7 linked regions of the Homo sapiens genome follow. The protein of the gene in region 3 purifies or fractionates together with the protein of the main gene of each other region. This does not show direct contact. Each region holds a gene or a part of one and is shown on either strand. Other genes may lie near its edges. The genes, in order: CYRIB, ACSF3, MTPN, METTL2B, RAB11FIP5, IBA57 and PTER.

Region 1 (3,500 bases), on a different chromosome or scaffold from region 3:
GAATAGAATGATCAAAGGATGACTATATTGTCTAGTGAGTACCTCCTGGAAGGCTTCTACTACGTATTTGGCAATATAAATAGATAATTAGATATAAGGAATTTTGAGTCATATCCTTTAATTCCTTTGGCCAAAGGCCATTTCAAATAAAATGTTTATTTCAGAATGCATATAAAAAGTCAGTAGTGCTGCTGGGCGTGCTGGCTCATGCCTGTAGCCCAAGCACTTTGGCAGGCTGAAGCAGGAGGATCACTTGAGCCCAGGAGTAGAAGACCAGCCTGGGCAGCATAGTGAGACCCCCATTTCTACAAAAAAAAAAAAAAAATTAGCCAGGTGTGGTGGCACACATCGGTAGTCACAGCTACGTTGAGAGGCTGAAGTGGGAGGATCCCTTGAGCCCAGGAGTTCCAGCCTGCAGTGAGCCACGATCACACCACTGCATTCAGTCTGGGTGAGAGAGAGACCCTGTCTTGAAATTAAAAAGACAGCCAGTAGGATGCTCCAGTGGAAAAAGATGAAGACTTTATGTATTTTCCCTCCCCTACCTAGTCATAATAATTTGTGACTATAGTTGGCTCTCGACTTTTCTTCTCTCTGTAAAAGTTTGTATTAGAAATAGTTTTCTAATTTCTCTACTTCGTAGTTTCTTTCCCCAACCTCTCACATCTAGTTCATTAGTGTTTGGTGAGAATTGTCTTCCCGTTTCCCTTTCATAGCTAGTTTAGGCTCTTAGCATTTCGGATCTCGATTACTGATTACTAGCCAAGCTTGTTGCCTTCATGTACACCTGTCATATGTAAAGAGAAATGAGTTAATATTTACTGTATGGTTGCCATGTCCCAGGAATTTTACGTTTGTTCTCCCTTGTGACTCTGAAAATACTCTTTTAGGTGTCATCTCCCTTTACTGACAGGGCAACTAAAGTTTAGCAGATCAAGTAATAGAATTGCTAGTAGGCCGGGTGCAGTGGTTTATGCCTGTAATCCCAGCACTTTGGCAGGCCGAGGCAGGCGGATCACCTAAGGTTAGGAGTTCAAGACCAGCCTGGCCAACATGGTGAAACCTCATCTCTACTGAAAAAAAATACAAAAATTAGCTGGGTGTGGTGGCACACATCTGTAGTCCCAGCTACTCGGGAGGCTGAGGTGGGAGAATCGCTTAAATCCAGGAGGCAGAGGTTGCAGTGAACCAAGATTGCGCCACTACACTCCAGCCTGGGTGACAGAGCGAGACTCCATCTCAAAAATAAAAAGAGTTGCTAGAAAAGGTAGAACCCACATTTCTCTGGCTTCCAAAGCCTGTGTTCTTTCTGCTGTATTATGCTTTTTTATAACAACCAGGCTAATATATCTTAAATACCATCGTCATCAAGTGGTTACCTTTTAAAATAACCTGTGAGTCCCCTGCTGCCAGGCATAACACTTCGTATAACTCATCCTGGCTTTCAGCCTCTCATAACTCCAGGTGCAGTGCTGAAAAATTCCTATCTGTCCTCTGTGTGATACTTTACTCTGTGAGGTTTCTCTACCTGAAAGTTCTTCTTTTCCTTAGTAACATACTCATTCTGTCCTTTATTTTTTATTTTATTTTATTTTTTGTGACGGAGTCTCGCTCTGTCACCCAGGCTGGAGTGCAGTAGTGCGATCTCGGCTCACTGCAAGCTCTGCCTCCTGGGTTCACGCCATTCTCCTGCCTCAGCCTCCCGAGTAGCTGGGACTACAGGCGCCCACCACCACGCCTGGCTAATTTTTTTGTATTTTTAGTAGAGACGGGGTTTTACCGTGTTAGGCAGGATGGTCTCGAACTCCTGACCTTGTGATCCGCCCGCCTCAGCCTCCCAAAGTGTTGGAATTACAGGCCTGAGCCACCCTGCCCAGCCCATTCTGTCCTTTAAATCGCCACTCAGCACCTTTTCCAGAAGTCTTCCCTTAGCAAACCGTTTGTTTTTCATTGCATGTGTGGTATATTAGTTTGACTGATTTTGTTCTCAAAAAGATTTTGTTTTCACTAAGTGAGAATAATAACTCTTAGGTTGGGTTTTTTTCTGTTCTAAGAATAATTAATTTGACATAGTATGTAATCTCTTGAGTTCCATAGTTATGGTCTTGATTTATTTTACTATTTTGAAAAGGAATGTTACATGAAAAAAATGGCTGTTTTACCTTTTCTGTTTTCTTTTTCTTTAGATGAAAGGTTGTATCAAAGTTCTTAAGGACCAACCTCCTAATAGTGTGGAAGGTCTTCTAAATGCTCTCAGGTGTGTATATGTACGTGTACGTATGTACAGAAAAAATCTGTAAGGAAAATGGTCGATGTTTATGTAAAGAAAATGCATTAAGTGTGAATAGGATATAAAAATAAGTGTTCAAGCTAGAAATATGAAGATCTTATTTTGTTTATTGATAATCTTGCTTCCAAACACTGGTTACGGTATTTTATGATGAGGAATGTGTGGGACACATGACAATAGCAGCTTCATTTTCTGGTTGAAGATTTTGGCTTTTACTTGTTGCTTCTCTTCAAACAGAGATTGCTTGTTTTTGTAATAAAAGTATTATATACCAGTTATAAATAAAATTCAGAAAACATAAGAAAATGTAAATAAAAAGAAATAATGTAATCTCACCATTTTGAGATAAGCCACTATTAGCATATAGCCTTCCAGAGTTTTTTCTTTACATATATAGATAATAGCTCTATGTAGTAGTTATCTTTTTACAAAATAATATCTTACAAAGTGGCTTGTAACTAGCTCTTTCCTCTTAATAGAATGTAATTACATTTGTGCTCAGACTTGTGTTCTGTTATTTTTATGTATTTCCTACAATAAAAATTAAGTAGTCATTATTTAATGTCTTTTCTTAGATTAGTTTTACTTAATTTAGTTGCTCAAACTTCTACAAATGCTAGAACATTATTTCGTTATTTAGAGTTGGAATCTCGCTCTGTCACCCAGGCTAGAGTACAGTGGCACAATCTTGGCTTATTGGAACCTCGGCCTCCCAGGTTCAAGTGCTTCTCCTGCCTCAGCCTCCCGAGTAGCTGGGATCACAGGCATGTGCCTGTATTTTGTATTTTTAGTAAAGACAGCGTTTCACCATGTTGGCCAGGCTGGTCTCAAACTCCTGACCTCAAGTGATCCACCCACCTTGGCCTCCCAGAGTGCTGAGATTACAGCATGAGCCACTGTGCCCAGCTGCTAGAACATTTTTAAATGAAAATCTCGATACTTTATAACATTTGACTACAGAGATTTAATTGGTAGTATTCACATGACATAAAAGATGATGTCCCATTACTTGATTTTTTGAGGGTTTAAACACAAAAATTACATGAACACAGAAATATTTATATAATGATATTTACCACATAAAATGTAGGCTGTATCATTTCAGCTAAGCGGAACTGTCAAATGATTTTATTAAGATTATGAAAAAATGTTTAAAAATAGTTTTTAAAAGATTATGAAAAGTGTTGCATAAGCGGTAGCTGCCTGAATA
Region 2 (3,500 bases), on a different chromosome or scaffold from region 3:
CTGAGACCCTGCTGTAGGCCTTGTTTGGGGGTCTCTCCCTGCCTGGGCCTGGCTGCCTCTGCCCCGAGATGCTTCTTCCAGAGCCAGTGCTCAGGAAGGACTGGTGGGGGCAGCTTGGGGAGTTGTCCATTCCCTGGGCCCCAGGCCCCAAATCCCTGCTTCTCAGTGATAGCCCTGCCTGGCCTCCAACCCCAGGGTCGTCACAGGCCCCAGCTGCCTGCTGTGCTGCACGCACGGTTTCCACTGAGCCATGCGGAGGGAAGAACCGTAGGGGTCGGCGCGCAACATGGTGCCATTCCCAGGGCCCCAGGCTTCTGTGCCGGAGAAAGTGGCAGCTATACCTGTCGGAAAAAGGCTGTGTCTGAGACTCCCCCAGCAGCACTGGGCGAAGCCAATCAGTGCAGGACTGAGACCTGTCTCTGTGATGGACGCCTGTCTCGGGGATGATTCTGAGAGGTGCTTCTGTGCCCAGAACTTGTGCGTGGCATGAGGGGACCCTCAGTGCTCAGAGCACGTGTGTGGCGTGCAGGGCCCTCAGTGCATGGTGGCAGTCGTGTGTCCTTCCCACCCTGGGCATCAGAAGGTGGTGCCGCTCTCAGCCCAGCCAGCACCACAGGGCCGGCTCCCCACTCCAGTGTCAGAATCCCCATCCTCACTGCTGCCTGGAGCTCCTTCCAGGGGTAGGGAGAGACTTCCCACTGCCCACAGAGGAAAGCCCAAGTCCCACATGCGTCTCCCGGGCCTGGATGCCTTTGCCCGGACGCCTTGGCCTGGACGTTCCTGGCATCTTCCTGGCAAAGGCCCCCTCTAGGCCGGGGCCCTCCAGGGTCCATCCTGCTGCACAAACATGGCCCCTCTGCCCCAGTACCCCTGCTCCACCTCCTCTGGCCAGTGTCTTGTCTGCAAGGCCTGGGCACCCCCACCCAAAGGGGCGGCCCCGCTGCTTCCCTCCCAGCCCTGAGCTTGCCCCTTGGAACATGTCAGGCTTTGTTCTAGCTTCTCAGCACAGAGCAGTCTCAGCTCCGAGGGTCGACATCTCCCTGCCCATTCCCAGACTACTCAGCGCCCGCCTCACCCGCCTTGCTGTGCCTTTGCCAAGGGGAAAAGTGGCTGGTTTTGTTCTTCCAGGCTGGGACGCTGCTATCAAGGGCTCAGAGGCATCGGAGCCAGGGTTTAAACAAAGTCTCAGCCAAGCAAGAGCGGGTCGGACACCCCGCGGGAGGAGGTCCTGCGGCAGCGAGGGCGACTCAGAAGGTTCAGAGGGCTCCAGGGCAACTTGCGATCACTGTGAAATGCAAGTCAAACAAGTTAAATAACCTTTACTTTCCATAACAACCTATTTATCAAAATGCATCGATTCTGGAATCGGAGTCGGCTGCCAATGGGCTGTGTATGTCCTCGGCCTGATGTGTTCATTAAAGGAGTTTTCTTCTGACAGATACAATGTAGCAATCAATAAACTCCTATTACCTGGATTTATGAGCTGCTTTTGAATTTGGTGCTATTTCATGTCTCTGCCTTCCACTGTAACTGAAAATAAATCTTCCAATACTCAGATTTGAATTCTCTAGAGTGTAGGTGGAGTGAGGTGCTGTGGTCCCCAGTCCCCCAGCGAGAACTTGTCTGTGGGCCTCGGAGGAAGCACTCCTGGCCGGGGGGATGTCCTGACCCGCACGCAAGATAAGAACAGCGCCTGTTCTGCTGTGCAGATGTGGTTCCCGAGCCTGGATCTGGAGTGACACCAGCACCCAAAGCGCGATCCCAGGAAACAAGGTGAAGAGAGGCCCAGACCCAGCCTGTCGGACTTTTGCTCCCAAATGGCACTGATGCCAGCAACAGAATGTGAAGCTTGGCCCCAGTCCTTGAGGAAAGTGCCGAGGGAAGCCCAAGGCCCTGCCCAAGGACCCCGCCCAAGCCGATGCCCTGAGATCTCTGCCCCCAAGTTCTCAGCCTCCAAGCCTGGAACAGGTGCCCGTGTGTGTGTACAGAGAGGCCAAGCCTGGAACAGGTGCCTGTGTGTGTACAGAGGCAGCTGGAAACCAAGTTACGTGAAAGCCTCCACCAGTTACCCCGGGGCACCTGGCCAGGGGAGGTGGCTGCAGGGAGGACAGACTGAGGCTCAGAGGGGCAGTGGGGAAGGCGGCCTCCATTGCGGCCAGGCACAGGCCACCGCCCAGCAGGAGGGAAGGTGCTGGAAGCTCAGGTGCCCGTGGACACTGGAGGCTTCTGCACCTGGACCCCAGTGCCATCCAGGTCTCCTCTGTGGGCCAAGGGTGAAAGAGGCTTCTTGAAGGCAGAGGGAGTCCCAGTGACGGCCTGAGACCCAACTCCCTGACCTGGGCTCAGCGCTCACCCGGCAGCTCCGTGACCTTGGCTCCGTCCTCAGCTGGTGGCTCCTCAACCTGGGCTCAGGGGTCTGGGGACAGAGGACACCCTGTACGTTAAAAAGAGGGGGTCATGGTTGGGTGCGGTGGCTCATGCCTGTAATTCCAGCACTTTGGGACGCTGAGGTGGGGAGATCACGAGGTCAGGAGATCGAGACCATCCTGGCCAACATGGTGAAACCCCGTCTCTACTAAAAATACAAAAATCAGCCAGGTGTGGTGGTGGGCGCCTGTAATCCCAGCTACTCTCGGGAGGCTGAAGCAGGAGAATTGCTTGAACCCGGAAGGCGGAGGTTGCACTGAGCCGAGATGGCGCCACTGCACTCCAGTCTGGCGACAGAGCAAGACTCTGTCTCGAAAAAAAAAAAAAAAAAAACAGAAAAAAAAAGGAGGGGGTCACCAAGTGCCAGGATTCAGCACGGCTGTGGCAGCAGCAAATCTGAAGGCCAGAAAATGATAGAGAAGCGACTTCTAACCCTGAACCCTATACGCAGCCAAACCGACAAGCAAGGCTGAGGGCAGAACGAAGACCCGGAGAGACACGCAAGTCTCCAAGTACGGACCCTACACACCCGCCTCAGGAAGCCCCAGGGGAAAGCAGTCCCCACAGCTGGGGGCGGAAGAGGGAAGACGAGGATGCTGTGGGCTGGGAGCCGACGTCCTGACCCGGTAGGAGGGAAGGGGTGGTGGTGATGGGGAAGGAGGCGCCATGGGGAGACCAGCCCAGCCCACGAGGAATTGGCACCAGGAGACCAAGAAAACCAAGACTTTCCCGACTCTGGAAAACAAAGAAAGAGGAAAAACCTCAGTGTCTCCTGGGCTCAGTTCTCAGCGGCGACTCCATAGTCTCAATAGTGCAGATGCCATACGGGACTGAGCCGGGCCGTGCCTGAGGAGGGGCCTCCTCTGCGGGACTCAAGCCATGGCAGCAAAAAGGAGCCTGGAGGTGGCGGTGCTGGCGGCCCTCGGGATGCGGGGACCGCACAGAAGCAGCAGCCGGCGAGTCTGGGGAAGGGGCACGGCTGTGATTCTTCTTCTCAAACTGCTACAACTACTTGGGTGTTTAAGCCACAGGTGTGTAACTTTGGCTTAAAAATAAAAATGTAAAAACACTCA
Region 3 (3,500 bases):
ATGCTTTCTGAATAGGTCACCAGCCCTTCTGTAGAAAGGGCAACACACAGTGATACATTTTTATAAGAAAGAAACTAATAATTTAAAGAAGAAAAAAAAGGGAAGCTGCCTAAAACCAATAAATGCAAAGTAGATTGAATCAGGACCTCTTTTAAATTGGCTATTTTATTAGGAAAGTGAAAAGTGATCTCAATGAGTCTTGGAATTTCTAAAGATTAGAGTTGATATCTTTCTCAGGTTCAAGAGATTCTATCCTTTCACATGGTGCACAATTGTTGCTTTTCAAACCTATTAGAGTGTCAACGGCAGATGTAATTAGAATGGAGGCTGGAGGGAAAGGAAACCACAGAGAAAGGGAAGTTAGAGACCAGGCTTCTATTTCACAGCAAGTGAAATAGAAGTACATGTAAACAAGAGAGTACATGTATCAGACCTGCTGAAGATTAAAAGGGGCTATTTATCAATGCAACTCACAAGCACTCACCTGTAAGCATGTTGGATCCTCAAAATCCACCAGAAAGCTCACCTTTTAGTAGTCTCAATGGATAATTACCATCCTGCTATGATTATTTTTACTATTTACTCAATAATATAGTACCCCCCTAGTTTCTGGCCTTATTGAGAAATGAAGGTCAAGGGTATGCTGAAGTAGTTAACAGCATGGGGCTTTTGAAACTCCTTCAGAACCCAAGGAAGTGAGTTCACATCTCAGCTTCACCACTTAAGAACTTTATGATCTTGAGCAAGTTATTTAATCTCTGCCTCTAAAATCTCTAAAATGGGGTTAACATTATTAATAATGCTCATGGCTTACTGTTGATAAGTAAATGAAATAATACCTGTATACTGCATCACAATCCTCAAATACATAAAATTTAATAAACATACTTTTTTCAAAATGTTACTTGTTTTATTTAAATAATTATGAATAGAAATCTCAATAATTTAGTTATTTTTGTTTCTTCCTAAGGCAAACAAACAAAATTTAACTTTTTCTGGACTGTGTAGGATCACAATTAGGAACATAAATTATAAGGTTAGATTATATGTGACCATAAATACAAAACATTCTGCAGGCTATCAGTCACTCTTATGGACACGTCTTGAGTAATGACAGTCTCTGATGAGAGTTTAAGTTTACAGAGATGTTTGTCTCTATACTAATTATTTCTGAATTGTTACATTTACAATTTTTAAAATACGGTTGCCATTTTTGTCTTCATTCACAGTCAGAGCTAATTAGTTGTACCGGCTTCTTACAAGCCTCTTTCTCGTTTTCTTAATTCTAAAGTGTTGTTAGCAAAAAAAAAAACCACTTTTAAAGCAAACTGATATGGTTATAAATACACACGCGCACACGCGCACGCGCGCGCACACACACACACACACACACACACACACCCCATGTAGATTCAGACAGTTCTGGGTTTAAAATCCAGTTATGCTACTTAGTTTGTGACCTTGTCAAGTTACTTCAGTTCTCTAAGCCTCAGGTTCTTCATCCTTAAAATAAGATTATTACTTATACTGAAACACTGTGGTAAGAAGCAAATAAAAACTTAGGTAAAACATCTTGCAGAGTGCTTTCCAGTACCTGACAATGTAAGTCATCCAGTCAATGGTAATTATTATTCTGTAATTAATGAAGTATGCTGAAATTATTGCTAAGTTAAGAATAAAATGAATTTCTTACCAGAAACATGATTTTAATGTGTAAAATTCCTTGGCGCTATGTTGGAGACAGAAAGATGAAAAAGAATATATTATCTACCCTCCAGGAGTTCAGAGCCTAATGAAGACACATGTAAACAAAATCACAGCAATCTGATGAGCAAAACAGTAAAAGAAGCAGCACTCTATGTGAAGTCAATCTTTTTCAGCCAGTCTCCCTCACTGCCCTTAAAATATTAATACTTTTGTGATTTCTCATTGCTTATTTTAAAAGGGCCAACTCCTCATCGGTATGGTGTTTTTCTGTTAGAGGTGATACTTACCCTAGGAGGGTAAATAGGAGTTTAACAGGTTGGGGGTTAGGGATTGAGGTGAGCAGACTTGGTCAGGGAGGATGAAAGAACACATGTAAAGATCTACAAGGAAGAAACAGGATGGCAGGGTCTGGAGCAGAGTGCTTAGAGAGAGGCAAGTGTAGAAAAGCAAGCCCAGATAATAGTGGCCTAGTACACCATACCAATGAGGAGCTGGCCCTTTTAAAATAAGCAGTGAGAAATCACAAAAGTATTAATATTTTAAGGGCAGTGCAGGAGACTGGCTGAAAAAGATTACATGCTTATATTCATGTTATTGAGAGATCCCTCCACCTAAACTGTGTAAACTGACCAGGAAGGGGTCAATTTTTGCTGCTTCTTTCCAGCCTGGACTATATATTCTTTCTTGACTATTTTCTTATAGTCAAGAAAGAAAATATAGTCCAGGCTGGAAAGAAGCAGCAACTGATCTAAAGTAGTAAGAAGAAAGGAGAGTGAGGAATGGATGAGGGAGACTAAGAAGGTAGTCTTGGTAACCCTCAGAAATCTAGGAAAATTTCCCAGTTTCCAGTTTGGACAAATGGTTGGGTCATGATACCATTAGTGAAAATGGAGACACAATAGGAATAAAAACAGTTTTTGAGAGGAAAACAGCTCAATTTGGAATTTGTCTGAACAGAGCTTATGCAGTCTGAAATTCAGGTGAGGCTAGAATTAACTCCAACAGGAGAACATAAAGGCAGAAATGTAAGACAAAGTCAAAAATAATGTCACCCAAAAGAAACATCCAGATCAAAAATGGGGCTATGAATATCTCTTATAGCTGCTCATGAATACCTTATTTTCTGGCTTTCACTTGTTTTCCAGCCGGACAACTGAATTTTATGAAAATGAGATGTTATTTATAATTTGCATACTACTATAAAAGTATGAATTTTTTTTCACGCAGGTCTGCTAAATATAGATGCTTACGTTTCCTGAAAACTGTGTCGAACTTCTGTACTATCATCCCAGGACTACTAAAGAGTTTAAGACCTGAAAGATGCCTAGTAAAAATGAATGAATTAACTAAATGTGGTCCTTAAGTCAGTCAAGAAGCCAAATGTAGTGTTGAAAGACTTTAAAATTGCTTCAGATATTGTCTTAAAGTTATACATGAAACATTTAATGTAATAATCTAAATTTTTCTCTAAATAATCTAAATTTTTCTCTCAATACTGTCTTTTCCATTTCAAAATACAATTTTCAGTGGTTTGGGGACTGTGAACTGACTTTTCTAAGTTCAAGAACTCACCTAAAACCAATGATTTAGGGATACTCACACTTCGAACTTTAATAGAGAAGTCAGAGGCAGGTAGAAAAGTGTAATTACTGACTTTTAAAAATACTAATTTATAAAGGAAAAACGGGTTCACACCTGTGAACCAGTGCTTTCACACCTGTAATCCCAGTGCTTTGGGAGGCCGAGGCCAGAAGATCGCTTGAGGCTAGGAGTTTGAGACCAGCCTGTACAAC
Region 4 (3,500 bases), 7.5 Mb from region 3:
TATCTTACTAGAACCCACTTGTTCATGTAATTCACTGGCTTAGAATTGGCATGTTTTCTACTGCCTGTGAATCAGGTTTAAATTGTTGGGCATAGTTTTCAAAGTCCTCTACAAGAGTGTGCCCTATAAAGTATGTCCTCTTATCCCTCAGTGCACTGGTCACACCTTGCATGTCTTCCCCTGACTCCGTACCTTTCCAAAATGTCCTTTGTTTCTACTACTCTATTTCCTTCCTTCCTCACATTCAGATCAGAAGCATCTAGAAAACTTCCCTAGTTGTTATCGTCCAGCTGCCTCACTCTGCAGTCTTTTTCGAGACAGTCTCACTCTGTCACCCAGGCTGGAGTGCAGTGATTCGATCTCGGCTAGCCGCAACCTCCGCCTCCCAGGTTCAAGCAATTATCCTGCCTCAGCCTCCCGAGTAGTTGGGATTACAGGTGCCCACCACCACGCCCAGCTAATTTTTGTATTATTGATTGATTGATTGGTTGATTGAGACGGAGTTTTGCTCTTGTTGCCCAGGCTGGAGTGCAGTGGTGCGATCTTGGCTCACCGCAACCTCTGCCTCCTGGGATCAAGTGATTCTCCTGCCTCAGCCTCCCAAGTAGCTGGGATTACAGGCATGCGCCACCATACCCAGCTAATTTTATGTTTTTAGTAGAGACGGGGTTTCTCCATGTTGGTCAGGCTGGTCTCGAACTCCTGACTTCAGGTGATCCACCCGCCTCAGCCTCCCAAAGTGCTGGGATTACAGGTGTGTGCCACTGTACCCGGCTAATTTCTGTACTTTTTAGTAGAGATGAGCTTTCACCATGTTGGCCAGGCGGGTCTCGAACTCCTGACCTCAGGTGATCCACCCACCTCGGCCTCCCAAAGTGCTGGGATTACAGGCATGAGCCACCATGCCCAGCCCACTCTGCAGTCTTTACAGCCTTTTTATGTTTCTTGAGTTACCCTATTGCCTAGATCCTTTTTTTTTTTTTTTTTTTTTTTTTTTTGAGACAGGATTTCTGTCACCCAAGCTGGAATGCAGTGGTGCCATCACAGCTCACTGTAGCTTCAACCTTCCAGGGTTCAGGTGATCCTCCCACCTCAGCCTCCCAAGTAGCTGGGACAACAGGCGTGTGCCACCACCCCTGCTAATTTTTGTCTTTTTTGTAGAAATGGGGTTTTGCCATGTTGCCCAGGCCAGGGTTCTTAATATTTTTTTAATGTATCTGATAAAGCCTTAGGATCATTTCTCAGGCTAATGTATTTTTCATTTGTTTTCTTTTTATATATAACAGCTTTATTGAGATATAAAGTGTGTAATACAGTGGTTTTTTTGTTTGGTTGGTTTTTTGTTTTGTTTTGGTTTGGTTTTGAGGTGGCATCTTGCCCTGTCGCCCGGGCTGGAGTGCAGTGGCACGATCTTGGCTCACTGCAACCTCTGCCTCCCAGTTTCAAGCGATTCTCCTGCCTCAGCCTCCTGAGTAGCTGGGATTACAAGCGCCCGCCACCACACCCAGCTAATTTTTGTATTTTTAGGATTCACTGTGTTGGCCAGGCTGGTCTCGAACTCCTGACCTCGTGATCTGCCTGCCTCGGCCTGCCAAAGTGCTGGGATTACAGGCGTGAGCCACCGCACCCGGCTGTAATACAGTGGTTTTAAGTTAATTCACAGAGTTGTGCAGCCATCACTGCAGTCAACTTCAGGACATTTTCATCACCCCAAAAAGAATCCCTATACCCATTAGCAGTCACTCCCCATTTCCCAATTTCCCCCAATCTCTAGCCCTAAGCAACCACTACTCTACAAATGCACAAATCTCTATATAGATTTATCTTGGGCTAATTTTAAGTATATGAAGTAAAATAGAGAAAATCAATTATTTTGAAATACAGTTCTATCCTCAGAGCCCAATTAAGGACTCTGATTTTAAAAATAATACTCTTAGCCCTTCATATTCACCTTTTCTGCATCCGAGGATTCAAGCAACCATGGATTGAAAATAAATAGTATAGGCCAGGCGCAGTGGCCCATGCCTATAATCCCAGCACTTTGGAAGGCCAAGGAGATAGGATCACCTGAGCCCAGGAGTTCAAGACGAGCCTGAACAACATAGTGAGACCCCGTCTCTACAAAAAAATTAGCCGCCTGGTGCTGCGGCTCACGCCTGTAATCCCAGCACTTTGGGAGGCCGAGACGGGCAGATCACAAGGTCAGGAGATGGAGACCATCCTGGCTAACACAGTGAAACCCCGTCTCCACTCAAAATACAAAAAAAAATTAGCCAGTCGTGGTGGCAGGCACCTGTAGTCCCAGCTACTCGGGAGGCTGAGGCAGGAGAATGGCATGAACCCAGGAGGCGGAGCTTGCAGTGAGCGGAGATCGCACCACTGCACTCCAGCCTGGGCGACAGAGTGAGACTCCGTCTCAAAAAAAAAAAAAAAAATTGCCAAGCATGCTGGCATGCACGTGTAGTCTCAGCTACTTTGGAGGCTGAGGCCAGAGGATTGGTTGGGGCTGCAGTGAGCCATGATCACACCACTGTACTCCAGGTGACAGAGCAAGACCCTGTCTCAAAAATCAATAAAACAACAATTTTTAAAACTATAACTGTTTACATAGCATTTATATTAGGCGTTATAGATGATTTAATGTATGCAGGAGGATGTGTGTGGGTTGTATGCAAATGCTACACCCGACACCATTGTGTAAGAGACTTGAGCTGGATACCAAGGGACAACTATATGACCTGTAGAAAACTTAAAGAAAAGCACAGGCCGGGCGTGGTGGCTCACTCTTGTAATCCCAGCAGTTTGAGAGGCCAAGGTGGGTAGATCACCTGAGGTCAGGAGTTCGAGCCCAGCCTGGCCAACATGGCGAAACCCCATCTTTACTAAAAATACAAAAATTAACCAGGCGTGGTGGTGGGTGCCTGTAATCCCAGCTACTCAGGAAGCTAAGGCAGGAAAATGGCTTGGACCCAGGAGTGGAGGTTGCAGTGAGCCAAGACCACGCTATTGCACTCCAGCCTGGGTGACAAAAGCAAAACTCCGTCTCAAAAAAAAAAGAAAAGCACAAAGAGGCCAGGCACAGTGGCTCATGCCTGTAATCTGAACACTTTGGGAAGCCAAGGTGGGCAGATTACTTAAGGTCAGGAGTTCAAGACCAACCTAGTCAACATGGTGAAACCCTGTCTCTCCTAAAAATACAAAAATTAACAAGGCATGGTGGTGGGCACCTGTAGTCCCAGCTACTCAGGAGGCTGAGGTGGGAGAATCACTTCAACCTGGGAGGCAGAGGCTGCAGTGAGCTGAGATTGTCCCACTGTACTCCAGCCTGGGTGACACAGCCAAGACCTCGTGTCTCACAAAAAAAAAAAGAAAAACATGAAGAAGAAAACAACGCTTGCCAGGCGCGGTGGCTCACCCCTGAAATTCCAGCACCTGGGGAGGCCGAGGCAGGTGGATCACCTGAGGTCAGGAGTTTGAGACTAGCCTGGCCAACATGGTGA
Region 5 (3,500 bases), on a different chromosome or scaffold from region 3:
TCCCCCACATCCTCTCCCTCACCTCAAGGGAGGAGAGTCACCACCACCACCAGGGAGGGACACTGGGGGCAGCCTGGACTCCCTCCCACCCACTTCCCATATGTAGTTCTGGCCCCTTGGGGTTTCTTCCCTTCTTGGGTCCACTTTATCTTCCCCAGTGGATTGGACATTCCTTGGGAACAGAGTGGAGACAGTGTCTTTCATCTGTTCAGCATCTGACACATAGTAGGTGCTCAGTGAATGTGGATGACCAAACATGAATGCCTGGTCGGGAGGCCAGTGCTGGAGCCTGCCCTGCTCTCCCCTCCCTTCACTCGGTCCTCCTAGAGCGCTATCGTCCCAGAGGGACTTGCTGCCTTCTAAGTCACACCCCATCACCTCCCAGTGCCCTGAGTCTCCAGGCCTCTGCCCACATCACCCCTGACCAGCCACCTGGTGAGGTCACAGCTTCATAATTCTTCCAAACCTCCCAATGCCACAGTGAGCACAGTCACACAGGCATCCGCTGTCCACTCAGCGGTCCTAAGTGCATCAGAACCACCCCTTAAAAGGCACCAAACGCAAACCAATGAAGCAACTGCTGCGCGTGGGGAACCTTTCTTCTGAGAGTTACATATGTGGGAAGTGTTTGAGTTTTCCTTTTTCTTCTGAAGGTGTCTGCAGCTTTCTCTCTGACCTAAGTGCTGGTCCCTCCTCTGGCTCTCTGCCTTCCCCAGCCTGCACCCTCACTCTAGCAGAATAGGAAACTGCTCAAGGCTCCACTGCCAGCCTGCTCTGCCACGGTCTGCCCCAAGAACTACCCCCTGATTGACAAGTTCCACCGCCCCCCACCCACAGCTCCCCTGCGGCTGAGTGCACACACTCCAGAAGGGCCTACAGCACTGCTCTCCTTCCCTGCCAGCCCACATCGGCTCTCCCCACTTCATTCCTTATACCCTGCACCTCATCAGTGCTGTTCTCCAAACCCCTGGCTTGTGGGGGGCTGCCTTGATTATCCCAAGTCCCAAGACAGCAGCTTCAGAGGTGGTACCATAGAAAGCTCCTGTCTTCAAAGCCTGTACCGTCTTGCCTCTGGGGTAAAAGAGACCCTCACCTGCCCCACAAAGGATGAGACTGGAGTGTGAACCCCTCAGTCCCTTGGGCTGTTCTGCCCCCTGTCCACCCCCTTCCTCCTGGACAGTGTTCTGGGGGTGGATGCTCACCTGGCACTGGGCTGTGGCTCCTCAGCTGGTCGTGTCTCCAAGGGCAGAAGCACAAGCGGGGAGGCTGGGGTGGCTGCAGCGAGGTCCTCCCTAAGTAGGGCAGGGGAGCCCCCAGGTGGGGAGGGCTCATGGGGGCCAGGGAGTAAGGCTGGCTCCCCTGGTGGTGCAGAGGAGGTAGTCAGGGGCCAGGCTTCAGACAGGGGAGAGCATGGAGGGCTGGGCCCCCCACGGTGGTGGCTGGCCCAAGGCGGGAGAGGGGGCGGTGGAAAGTCAGGCTCTGGGGGAGTGGGCAGCTCTTCTGGACCAGAATGAATAGAAGATTCCCTCGACCCTGGCGGGGATGCAGATGAGAGGCTGGGAGGATCTCGGCTCCCCTGAAACAAGAAGGGGTTCAAGGCATCTTCCTTGGAGACCCACACATCAGCCTGCTGGGAGGTGGCTGACAAGGACCCAAGCCCCTCTCCTACTGGATCCTGGCCCTGGGCCTCAGGAGCCTCAGGGCCTTCTCCAACCTCTGGAGTCCCCCAGATGTGCTGACTCTGAAGAGCCAAGCTCTTTGAGTGACAGGGTATGGGGGCAGGACCCTCAGGGCAGCTGGCGGGTGCAGACAGGCAGGGCCCAGACACAGGGGGGCTGGCATCCTCCACTAGCTCTTCCAGGCCAGGCTGGCCCAGCAGGGTTGCAGAGGAGCAGCTGTCAGACTCCTCCGACTCACGCTTCTCTCCCTCCTCCTTGGTCTCCGGGGGACCGACAACCAGTGCACTTGGGGAGGCATCTTCTCCCTCTGTCTCCGGCCCCCTGTTACTCAGCCCCACTGCGGCCTTCTCCTCCTCCTCCTCCTGGGATCTTGAGGGTGTGAAGAGGCGCGGTGGCTTGGGAGGTGGGGTGCTGGGCTGCAGCCCCTTGTCAGACACCCACTCGGGTTTAGGCTCGGGCTCCGGTGGGGGAAGCCCCTCGCTCCCCTTGGGGCTCACAGTTTCTGGTGATTCAGGCTGCACCTGGGGAGCAGGCTCATCAGACTCTCCCCGAAAGACTAGTGAGGCTGTCTCAGCTGCAGGAGAAATGGTGACCACATCCCAAGGCCAGGCATCATCAGCTGTCTCGACGTCAGGGCAAAGCTGATTTTCGCCTCGGGAGGACTCATCGTCCTGGCCCTCAGCAGCGCTCTCTGGGCCCGGCAGCCTCTCCCACACACTGATCACTTCTGGGGAGCTAAATAGAGATGTCCCACTGTCTGCCGGACTCTGCCCTGCTTCCACTTCCGGGGCTGGCAGTTCCCTGTCTGGTTCTGAGCCTGAGGCTCTCAGCTGTAGCTGGGCTGACGAGGAGGGCAGGCCAGCCCCTACCGACCCGAGGAGCCCTGGGTCAGCCGCGCTCGCGCTCTGGTGGTTCGGTCCCAAGTCCAGAGGAACCCTGGGCTCCAGCCACACGCTGCTCCCACCTCTTCCTCCTCCTCCTCCTCCTCCTCCTCCTCCTCCCCCAGGCTCTCCCTGGGGCTCAGCTGCCTTCGCAGTCATGGCCCCAGGGCCTGGGTCTTGCAGCCCTGCCGCCTCCAGCCCCACTCCTGCAGGGGCCAGGATCTCGCTCCTGGCCTCTGGACGCAGCCTGCTGGCAGCAAAGACGTTGAAGGTGTTGTCCCACTCAGGCAGGGCTTTCCCAGGGGAGGCCAGGGGGGTGGGGCTGGCCCTCGAGGCACTGGGGAGAGAGGGAGCAGGTGAAGGAGAGTTTAGTGCTATGTCGGCTATGAGCTCCTCGAAGAAGGGGTTGCTCTGCAAAGAGGTGAGGAACGGGTTGGTAAGACCCAATAATCCAGGTGGGGTGGCTTCAGGGGCGGCGGTGGTGGCGGCAGCGGCAGCAGTGGCAGCAGCGGGGGAGGCGGCTGCAAAAAGGTTAGTGCTTAGCATGGGAGCAGCAGTGGGAGCAGGAGTGGGAGGGGCCGGAGCCCAGGGGGAGCAGGGGAGGTGGTGAGGAAGAGCAGCTGGGTCAGATTCTACCTGAGGAGACACGTCCAGGCTGTGGAGGGAGACAAAACCGTGAGCCTCCTGGTTAATGCCAAGACTGGAAAGGCCCCTGAGTCCCACGCCCCACCCCCTGCTTCGGGACCAGGGGCCATAACACACACATAGGCTGGATTTACCTACTTGGGCCAGGGTACAGAGGGAAGACCCCAACATGTAACATTATCAAGTGCCTCCCAAGGAGAAATATGCCAGGCAAAGCTATTTTAATGCTCACTCCAACCCCAGAGAGAAATCATCTCATCTGATAGGCAGGATCCGATCCAAACCTAACCAAGTG
Region 6 (3,979 bases), on a different chromosome or scaffold from region 3:
AATAGAAAGACACAGAGGAGCCACCAAGCATATGCTTGGTAAGGGGAGCTGGGGCCCAGTAGGTCTGCAGACAAGCTCCAGACCAGGCAAGAAAGGATGAAGAGGAAAAAGCCCTGAGACACAGAAAGGACAGACAGCTGACCCTTGAATGATGCAAGGGCTAGGGACACTGGCCCCCACACAGTTGAAAACCCACCTTTAAGCTTTGACTCCCCAAAAGCTTAACTACTAACAGACTCCTGTTGACTGGAAGCCTTATGCATAACATACGCAGTCAAGTGGCACATATTTTTTATGTTTTATGCTATTATATACTGTATTACAATACGGTAAGCTACAAATCCCAGGAAGAAAATCCTAAGGAAGAGGAAATGTAGTTCCACTTCACTGAATGGAAATGGATCAACATAAACATCTTCATCCTCATGGTCTCCATGTTGAGTAGGCTGAGGAGGAGGAAGGAGAAGAAGGGTTGGTCTTGCCGTCTCAGGGTGGCAGAGGTGAAGGAAAATCCACGCATAAGTGACCTATGTAGTGCAAAGTCAGCTGTACTTTACACCACAAAACACTTATTAAGAATAGGAATTCAATTGAACTAGGACTCAAAGGGAAAAGGACAAGAGAGGACTATAGAAATATGGAAGGGAATTTGGGGACCAAAATCAACATCATTGTAAGGCTAACATGTGAACAGCAAAGTACTAACATAGAAGGCTCCAGAGAATCAAAGAATGTAGTTCTTAAGATGAAGAAATTAAAGCAGCTAGACAGAATGTAATGAATACATAAGACAGACTATGATGACTATATCTCTGAACTGGGACATGAAGATTTAAGCCTATTGAGCTAGGGTGGGCACACTTTTTCTGTAAAGGGCCAGTGAATAACTTAGGCTTGAGGGCCACACTCGTGCCACAACTCTACCACTCCAGACAAAAGCAGCCCCAGGCCGGGCACAGTGGCTCACACCTGTAATCCCTGCACTTTGGGAGGCCGAGGCGGGTGGATCACCTGAGGTCAGGAGTGTGAAAACAGCCTGGCCAATATGGTGAAACCCTGTCTCTACTAAAAATACAAAAATTAGCCGGGCATGGTGGCAGGCACCTGTAGTCCCAGCTATTTGGGAGGCTGAGGCGGGAGAATCTCTTGAACCCTGGAGGCAGAGGTTGCAATGAGCCAAGATTGTGCCATTGCACTCCAGCCTGGGCAACAAGAGCAAAACTCCGTCTCAAAAAAAAAAAAAAAAAAGAAGCCCCAGACCACCTGGAATCCAACGGGTGGGGTTCCCAGAGAATTTTATTATAAACACCGGCAATGGGCTGGGTCTGACCTCAGGGCCGTATTTCACCAACTCTGGTTCTAGATTTAAAGAGCCCACTAAGTGCCCAGAGATGTGATATGGAAAAAGCCCAAACTAAGACACATCAGCATGACATTTCACGACATCAAGAATAAAGAAAAGCTTCTGAGAAAAACACAGTTCACATACAAATAAGAACGGCACCAGACTTCTCAGAAAAGCTGGCAGCGAGAAAACAAAGTTGTGATGTGAACATTGTCGGTGACAATTTCCAAGCTAGATTTTTACACCCAGCCAGGATATCAGGTAAAGCCACTAGCAGAGACACAATGAGTCCAAAAATTCACCCCACGTAGCTCAGGAAGTCATTAAAAAGGTGTCCATCCCCTGAAACCAAAACACAGGAGTAAGCTGAAGAGAACAAGAACCGGGTCCGCCATAGCAGGGACAGCAGGCAGGCGGCCGCGAACCAGATCCACTCCACCGGGCGGAGGTTTCAGGGATCCAGGTCCCTGGAAGCTGGGCAAGGGAAACCCAAGGCTGTAAGCAGTCAAGGCCCTGACCCGGCATGAACATCACTGACAGTCGTGATGTCAGCACAGATGACTGAGCCAAATGCCAATGTGACCAGCTATGGGGAGACACAGGGAAACACAAGGTAAACAGAACTCGGGAGTGTCACCACAAGCTGTCACTCAGAAACACAGCTCTGCCACCAGGCGGGGCCCCTGAACCCCTTGTCCCTGCGGAGGGAGAAGGGTCACCAGATGGCCCACTTGGGAGGTGCCCACCTAGAGACGCCTCTGCTCTGATATGGTGGGCTGGCCCCCAGGCCTCCCCTGGATGAGTCGCTGACCCATCCCTGGGTGTTGAGCCAAGCCCTCCTCTGGGTGCCCTCCCCCGGGTGCTGGGCCCTGGGTGAGCTTCCCCTGGGTGTCCATCCCAAGTGGAATCTCCTGGGTGCCTGACCCTGAGTGCCAGTCGCTGGCCCACCCACCCTTGAGCTTCCACCCCATCCCGGCCCTCCCCGGGTGCCCACCCCCCACGCCCTCTGCAGGCCCCGGGCGCCCGCCCTGTCCCTGGGTGCCGGTCCCTGGCCACTCCCCTGGGTGCCCGCCCCCGAGCGCCCTCCCAGCACGCGCTCACCCGTACAAGATGACGTCATAGAGCGTCCGGCCCTGCACGTTCAGGAAGTGGGCGTAGCCCGCGCGCGCAGCAGGCGGGGCCCCCGCGGCCGCAGGACTCGGAAGCGGCAGTTCATTGGTCAGCAGCCCTAGCAGGAAGGGCGCCGCGTCGGGGCCACGCACGCGCAGCAGGGTGCGCCCGTCCAGCCGGAAGCAGGCCCAGGCCGCTCCGGCCGTTGGGTCGCCACCAGGACTGCAGGAGCTGTGGGCCAGGCGGCACCTTGGGGCCGCGCGCAGCCGCCAGCGCCAGACCGGGCCGCCGCGCCCCGGAGTGGCGCCTCGAAGCAGCGCCGCGGTCGCCATCTTGGACAAGAGTGGGGCAGCGGGAAGGGCCCAAGGAAGCGGGAGGGGCGGGTGCCACAGCGGCCCCTGGCGGTGGCCGCCGGAGGGAGGCGGGAAGGGGCGGGCGCAGAGTGCGTGCGTGAGGGGTGAACGGAACGTGCGTGCCTGAGGGGCGGAGCAGCGCCGGTTGAGGCCGACTGAGAGTGCGTGCGTGAGGAGCAGGGCCTCCCGAGCTGGAAGGGGCGGGCGGGGCGAGCGTGCCTGCTGGGTGGGTGGGGCATGCGTGTGGGGCGGAGCATCGTGCGCGGGGTGTGTTTCGGGGCGGGGACTCGGCCTATCCGTCAGCACGCAGGCTCCACCCTCGGTAGGTAACGAGGTTTCTGCCGGCCTCTTAAGCGCCATCCCATGTCCCATTCGGTGGCCTTCCTCGTTTTCACCCACCCATGTCGGGCACCGTCACTCATCTCGAGAACCTCTTCATCCTCCCAACCTGAAACTCCCTGTTAAACACCCACTCCCGAGGCCCTGGAGCTCCCATTGTACCTTCTGGCTCCATGAGCGTGCCTCCTCTAGGGACCTCACAGGAGCAGAATCCTACGGGATTTGTCGTTTGCGACGGCTTATTTCACTCAGCATAGTATTCTCAAAGTCCATCCACGGTCTAGCATGTATCAGCATTTTATTTTTATTTTTATTTTTATTTTTATTTTTTGTAAAGACAGGGTCTTGGTTATGTTGCCCAGGCTGGCCTCAAGCTCCAGAGCTCAGGCAGTCCTCCCTCCTCAGCCTCTTGAGTAGCTGGAACTACAGGCGCTAGCCACCACACCAGCTAATTTTTGTATTTTTTTTGTAGAAATGGTCTCCCCATGTTGTCCAGGCTGGTCTCAAACTCCTAGGCTCAAGCGATTCACCGGCTTTGGCCTCCCAAAGTGCTGGGATTACAGGCGTGAGCTACCGCACCCGGCCGCTTCCTCTTTCCTACCAGTTCGCCAGCGTCCACGTGTGGCTGTTGTGTCATTTTTTTCATTTGCTGGACCATTGGGACTTCAGCTGCAGGTGGCAGGAGGCTCCATCCCCAAGTGTCTCCACGGATAAGGACAGGCACCATCCAGCCCACAACCCCTCCGCACCCCTAATCAGTGTGACATGATGAGACACAATCACAGCTTCAAATCACATCCTTGGTAACTTCTGCTTTTTTCAGGCCAGGGTC
Region 7 (4,236 bases), on a different chromosome or scaffold from region 3:
TTGAAACAAAAAAGATACCTTTCAAATAATCAGCCTCTGGAGGAAGGCACTGTCCGTCCGTCTAGATCCACTTTAGAATCTAGACGCCAAAAAAACTATTCAGAGAATCCCATAGAAGAGCCATTGTCTGTGAGTGGCATCTTCTACCATCAAAGACCCATGGAAGTCACGACAGACACTGCCCAGAGTCCAGACACGTACAGATGGTGGCTGTCAGGAGGTGACTCACACTACAGATTCCAGCATTTAACAAAGCAAAGAGGATTTCATTTTTAGAGAATAGTCAGGAAGCTGTTCTTTAGTCCACTGACTATAAATTTAAAGGAACAGCTTATTATTTTAGCAATCTTGCTGACATGGAAAGAAGACAGAATATATTTGTATTGGTCAGTTTAATCCAATGCTCAGAGGCTACAACTAAATCAAAATTGCCATAGACTTCAAAGGGGCAAATGGTTAAAATGCTGACCAACCTTTTTTCAGTGGCTTTGTAGCTTATCAAATGCCCCTCACTTGCAGACCAACTGATTTTGCTCTCAGAATATTTTACTTGTAGTGAGATTCCTTTTGTTTCCCTATTTTAATCGCAAACAGTCCTTGATATTTTTTGGCCAGATAAAAGGAGAGAGCAAGAATGAGATCTGAAAAATGGGCCCACAGGGAGAGGCATTTGAGAGAGGATTGCTGAATACAAATCCAGAACAAAGTTATTTAGTGAAATGCCAAAATGGTCATTCATCCAAACTGGCACATCCTATTAGAAGCTATCTTTAATGCGGTATTGCCAGGCATGGTCATAAATGTCACAGGTTAGAAATTTCTGTATGCATGGAATAAGGATATGTTCCTGCTAGGATGCAGCAATATTTTTATCGTCACCACACAATATTTATTAAAGGTCTCTCAGTACACACGCCACAGTAGAAGTCAGTATCTTTACGACAAGCACAATAGGTTAATGAGTAAAAAGTTGAAAGCATCCTGAAAAGCGAAAATGAAAGACAAATGACATCTAATGAGTTAACATTTTTCACAGGGTGCGTCTCCTGGTGGAAGAGGGCTGTGAAGATCGAATTCTGGTAGCACATGACATACATACGAAAACCCGGCTGATGAAATATGGAGGTCACGGCTATTCTCATATACTCACCAATGTTGTTCCTAAAATGTTGCTGAGAGGCATAACTGAGAATGTGCTTGATAAGATTCTAATAGAGAACCCTAAGCAATGGCTAACTTTCAAATAGGATGGTTGCTTATGAATTCACACCTTGAGTATAAAACTTGCAGAGAACATTCAGCGATTTCCAGTCCACTGTGAGATATTAATCAGTTACCTAGGACTAATGACAGATCATTTCCTTCTGATGAGAACTAGGAGGGTTTGCCTTCTCTGAGACCAGCTATTACAACTGTGCCTCTAGGGAGTTACTCAGCCTAATTGAGCCCTATTATTTTAACTTAACAAAATAAATACAGAAGTACCTATTTCTAAACAATGATTTAAAGTCTATATCCCCTAAGCGGAGTTGTTGTTTTTCTCCCTAATCTATCAGCTGCACTACTTGAGAAAATTTAAAGTGTTTCTAGTTAAATTATTTCCTTCTTGAGCGATCTAATGTTTCTTGTAATATTGATGATCCTACTAATTATCCTGCTGTTCTTTAATTAATGCTTAATGAATAATATGGCACTGTAAAATAGCTTCTGCAACAAGGGAAGTTAAATTTTGAGACTTTTTTCCCCAAAGGATACTGACTGTAATACAATTACCAATTCACAATGATAAAAATATTTTGAAAGGTTAATTTTATACTGTCCACCTATCTATATATTCTTCTACTGAAATGATTTTGATATCTTTGGCTTTCCGGTATCTATTTTTGCCATACATTTTGCTGTTTTGCAAAGTTTGTATAAGAACACATAACACTACTGAATTATAAAAATTCAATCATAAAAGTCAAAATATATTACATAATATAGTTTAATGAATCATTACATTTATAATAACAAAGGCCACAATTTAATTAATTGGTAAGATATAATGCAAAAAAAAAAAGAGAAATGTTTGCCTTATGTATATTCCCTTTATTTCCTTTACCTTTTGTTTTTCCTTGGACCTAAACAGAGAAAATAATGCTTATGTATCTGAAGAAAAGGTCAGATCTATTGGAAATGACAGCCCGATACTTGAGCCTCCTCTTTAAAAGGTATCCAGCCCTGATATTTTGTGTAAATAAAATGTTTTTAAAACCTGTTAGTTAAAACACTTAGGTGATGGGCACTGCTGCTTATAAATTCATCTTTTGGTTGAATCCTCACTATGCTATTTGGTACCTAAAAATATTCTCCAAACCCTTGCTGCCAGTTCCTCTTTGATAAATATATAGTTAATTCGAAATAAAATCCATTGCAATTCATTTATGAGTTATCTTACATATCACAAAGACCAATTAGAATTAGTCATTATTCTTGATGAAGAGTCTGTTTTTAATCATAAAAATCATGACAGTTACTCAGACCCAGGCATTTCAACAGAGCTAACACCACCTTCAGATAGGCACACCATGCATAACTCTTGGGAAGTTGAGCTTTGCTAAATAAAAGATATTTCTGCTGATCAAAGATGATCAAGCTTTCTGTGTATTGGAACAGAAAGTAACAAAGAGGAATGAGCCAGGAGAACAAACTAATTCCTTTAAATAAATAAAAAAAAAAAATGCAAATGTCCTTCACCAGTAAAGCAAGCAAATTTTTAAAATCTCTGTTTTTGAAATCTACTCGTCAAAGAGTTTTCAGAGGCAATGAAAGGGGAACAGATTTTTCATTGTAATAGTGGAAGTTGTGTGATAGTTAGGAGATATCAACATGCATTTTTAATCTTTTCCTTAGATGAAAGAGATGGCTTTTGGCAGTGTGTTCTAACCAGAAAGAAAGGATTTGTATTACTCTCCAAATCTACTGTACTGTCAGCTTCACTCCACCTGAGAAAAAAGAAAAAAAAATTGATAGCTCAAATGCATGTAATTCATAAACACTGCAAAGGAGAGCCACTTGGTGTCTGCAGTCCTCATATTAACAGTCTGTCACAGAATGCAGTTAAAGTATTGATTGGCATATGGTAATAGAGCAACCATAGCCTTAACTTACAGACCTGTGAAATAAAGGGCATTTTGACCTAATACAATTAATTTTCTGGATAACTCTTAAAGAGAAGTCATTTTAACTGTTTTTGCTACTCCATATATTGTCATTCAAAATATATTTTAACCCAAAATAAGTTAAATAATTTGTGCATGTTTGTGTGTGTATATATGCATACACTTTTTTATATTAAAATTTTGAGGCTATACAGCCACTGTGCCCTGTGGAATAAAGCCATATATATAAATGTTTTATATGTATATGTTTTATACATAAATAAAACATTTCATCTAATATATATATGTGTGTGTGAGTATATGTGTGCATGTTTAGCAGATATTTGTATAAAATATAAACACTCTGTTGTCATATAGGCTATATGCGAAATTGTTAATTTTAAAATAACCTCAGGCCACAGACTTGTAGTAATCATTTGAAGGCCTCACCTAGTGTCCCCTTGGTGACGTATGCAGCAGCTCAAATTAAACCTTTGTGCATTGGGTTATGAATAATCTTTTCTTCCAAAGATGGCAAAAGCCTCGGTTTGATTTGATACTAAAGAATAAATTTCTCTGACTTTCCCAGTGAATCTAAATGTATTCAGTTGACAAAATGGACACATAAGGGCTTTTTCTAAATACCGTACATAATTACACATTTTCACACTTAGAGGGTAATCCTATGATACACTGTCAATCTCTATTTTTAAAGACTATCACCAGAAAAGAGAGAAAAGAAAATTCATATAAGAAAAAGAAAATGTGAAAAAGATCATAGGCTTGGGAATTCCCTCAAATCCAGAAAATTCCAGGTTAAGGCTTGAAGTTGAATCATTCCCAGGTCTAGCTCTAAGGTTAACAAGAGTACAAGGCAAACAATTTCTTTGGGGACAAGCAGCATTATTTCAATTAGACCTTCTCCTGCAGGGCAAAAATCATTCTTCCCCACACTATGAATGGACTCCAAGTATCATAATAAGCAGGTAAACTCACAAGAACCAAAGCTGACATATGGATAAAAGCAGCAAGATCACAGTACACCAAAGTATCATATATATAGAAGAAATAATTCAATGTCTTAGATTTGTCT

The links.
Region 1: the proteins of MTPN (region 3) and CYRIB purify together in Homo sapiens (affinity purification with mass spectrometry; one large-scale study listed by BioGRID and IntAct). This does not show direct contact.
Region 2: the proteins of MTPN (region 3) and ACSF3 purify together in Homo sapiens (affinity purification with mass spectrometry; one large-scale study listed by BioGRID and IntAct). This does not show direct contact.
Region 4: the proteins of MTPN (region 3) and METTL2B purify together in Homo sapiens (affinity purification with mass spectrometry; one large-scale study listed by BioGRID and IntAct). This does not show direct contact.
Region 5: the proteins of MTPN (region 3) and RAB11FIP5 fractionate together in Homo sapiens (co-fractionation; one large-scale study listed by BioGRID). This does not show direct contact.
Region 6: the proteins of MTPN (region 3) and IBA57 purify together in Homo sapiens (affinity purification with mass spectrometry; one large-scale study listed by BioGRID and IntAct). This does not show direct contact.
Region 7: the proteins of MTPN (region 3) and PTER purify together in Homo sapiens (affinity purification with mass spectrometry; one large-scale study listed by BioGRID and IntAct). This does not show direct contact.

The regions. Positions count from the first base shown.
Region 1 is NC_000008.11:129,845,561-129,849,060, reverse strand, and holds part of CYRIB (CYFIP-related Rac1 interactor B), read left to right. Parts: intron 1-2,186; coding exon 2,187-2,257; intron 2,258-3,500. UniProt on the Homo sapiens protein: Negatively regulates RAC1 signaling and RAC1-driven cytoskeletal remodeling. Regulates chemotaxis, cell migration and epithelial polarization by controlling the polarity, plasticity, duration and extent of protrusions.
Region 2 is NC_000016.10:89,138,852-89,142,351, reverse strand, and holds part of ACSF3 (malonate--CoA ligase ACSF3, mitochondrial isoform 1 precursor), read right to left. Parts: intron 1,286-3,500; exon of another isoform or gene 1,076-1,285; intron 1-1,075. UniProt on the Homo sapiens protein: Catalyzes the initial reaction in intramitochondrial fatty acid synthesis, by activating malonate and methylmalonate, but not acetate, into their respective CoA thioester. May have some preference toward very-long-chain substrates.
Region 3 is NC_000007.14:135,970,860-135,974,359, forward strand, and holds part of MTPN (myotrophin), read right to left. Parts: intron 1-3,500. UniProt on the Homo sapiens protein: Promotes dimerization of NF-kappa-B subunits and regulates NF-kappa-B transcription factor activity. Plays a role in the regulation of the growth of actin filaments.
Region 4 is NC_000007.14:128,483,248-128,486,747, forward strand, and holds part of METTL2B (tRNA N(3)-cytidine methyltransferase METTL2B), read left to right. Parts: intron 1-3,500. UniProt on the Homo sapiens protein: S-adenosyl-L-methionine-dependent methyltransferase that mediates N(3)-methylcytidine modification of residue 32 of the tRNA anticodon loop of tRNA(Thr)(UGU) and tRNA(Arg)(CCU).
Region 5 is NC_000002.12:73,078,449-73,081,948, forward strand, and holds part of RAB11FIP5 (rab11 family-interacting protein 5), read right to left. Parts: intron 3,216-3,500; coding exon 1,203-3,215; intron 1-1,202. UniProt on the Homo sapiens protein: Rab effector involved in protein trafficking from apical recycling endosomes to the apical plasma membrane. Involved in insulin granule exocytosis. May regulate V-ATPase intracellular transport in response to extracellular acidosis.
Region 6 is NC_000001.11:228,164,625-228,168,603, reverse strand, and holds the start of IBA57 (iron-sulfur cluster assembly factor IBA57, mitochondrial isoform 1 precursor), read right to left. Parts: upstream 2,801-3,979; 5' UTR 2,788-2,800; coding exon 2,447-2,787; intron 1-2,446. UniProt on the Homo sapiens protein: Mitochondrial protein involved in the maturation of mitochondrial [4Fe-4S]-proteins in the late stage of the iron-sulfur cluster assembly pathway. Operates in cooperation with ISCA2 in the maturation of [4Fe-4S] proteins.
Region 7 is NC_000010.11:16,510,010-16,514,245, forward strand, and holds the end of PTER (N-acetyltaurine hydrolase), read left to right. Parts: intron 1-1,036; coding exon 1,037-1,247; 3' UTR 1,248-3,736; downstream 3,737-4,236. UniProt on the Homo sapiens protein: N-acetyltaurine hydrolase that regulates feeding by catalyzing the hydrolysis of N-acetyltaurine into taurine and acetate. N-acetyltaurine has anorexigenic and anti-obesity effects that are dependent on GFRAL receptor and GDF15.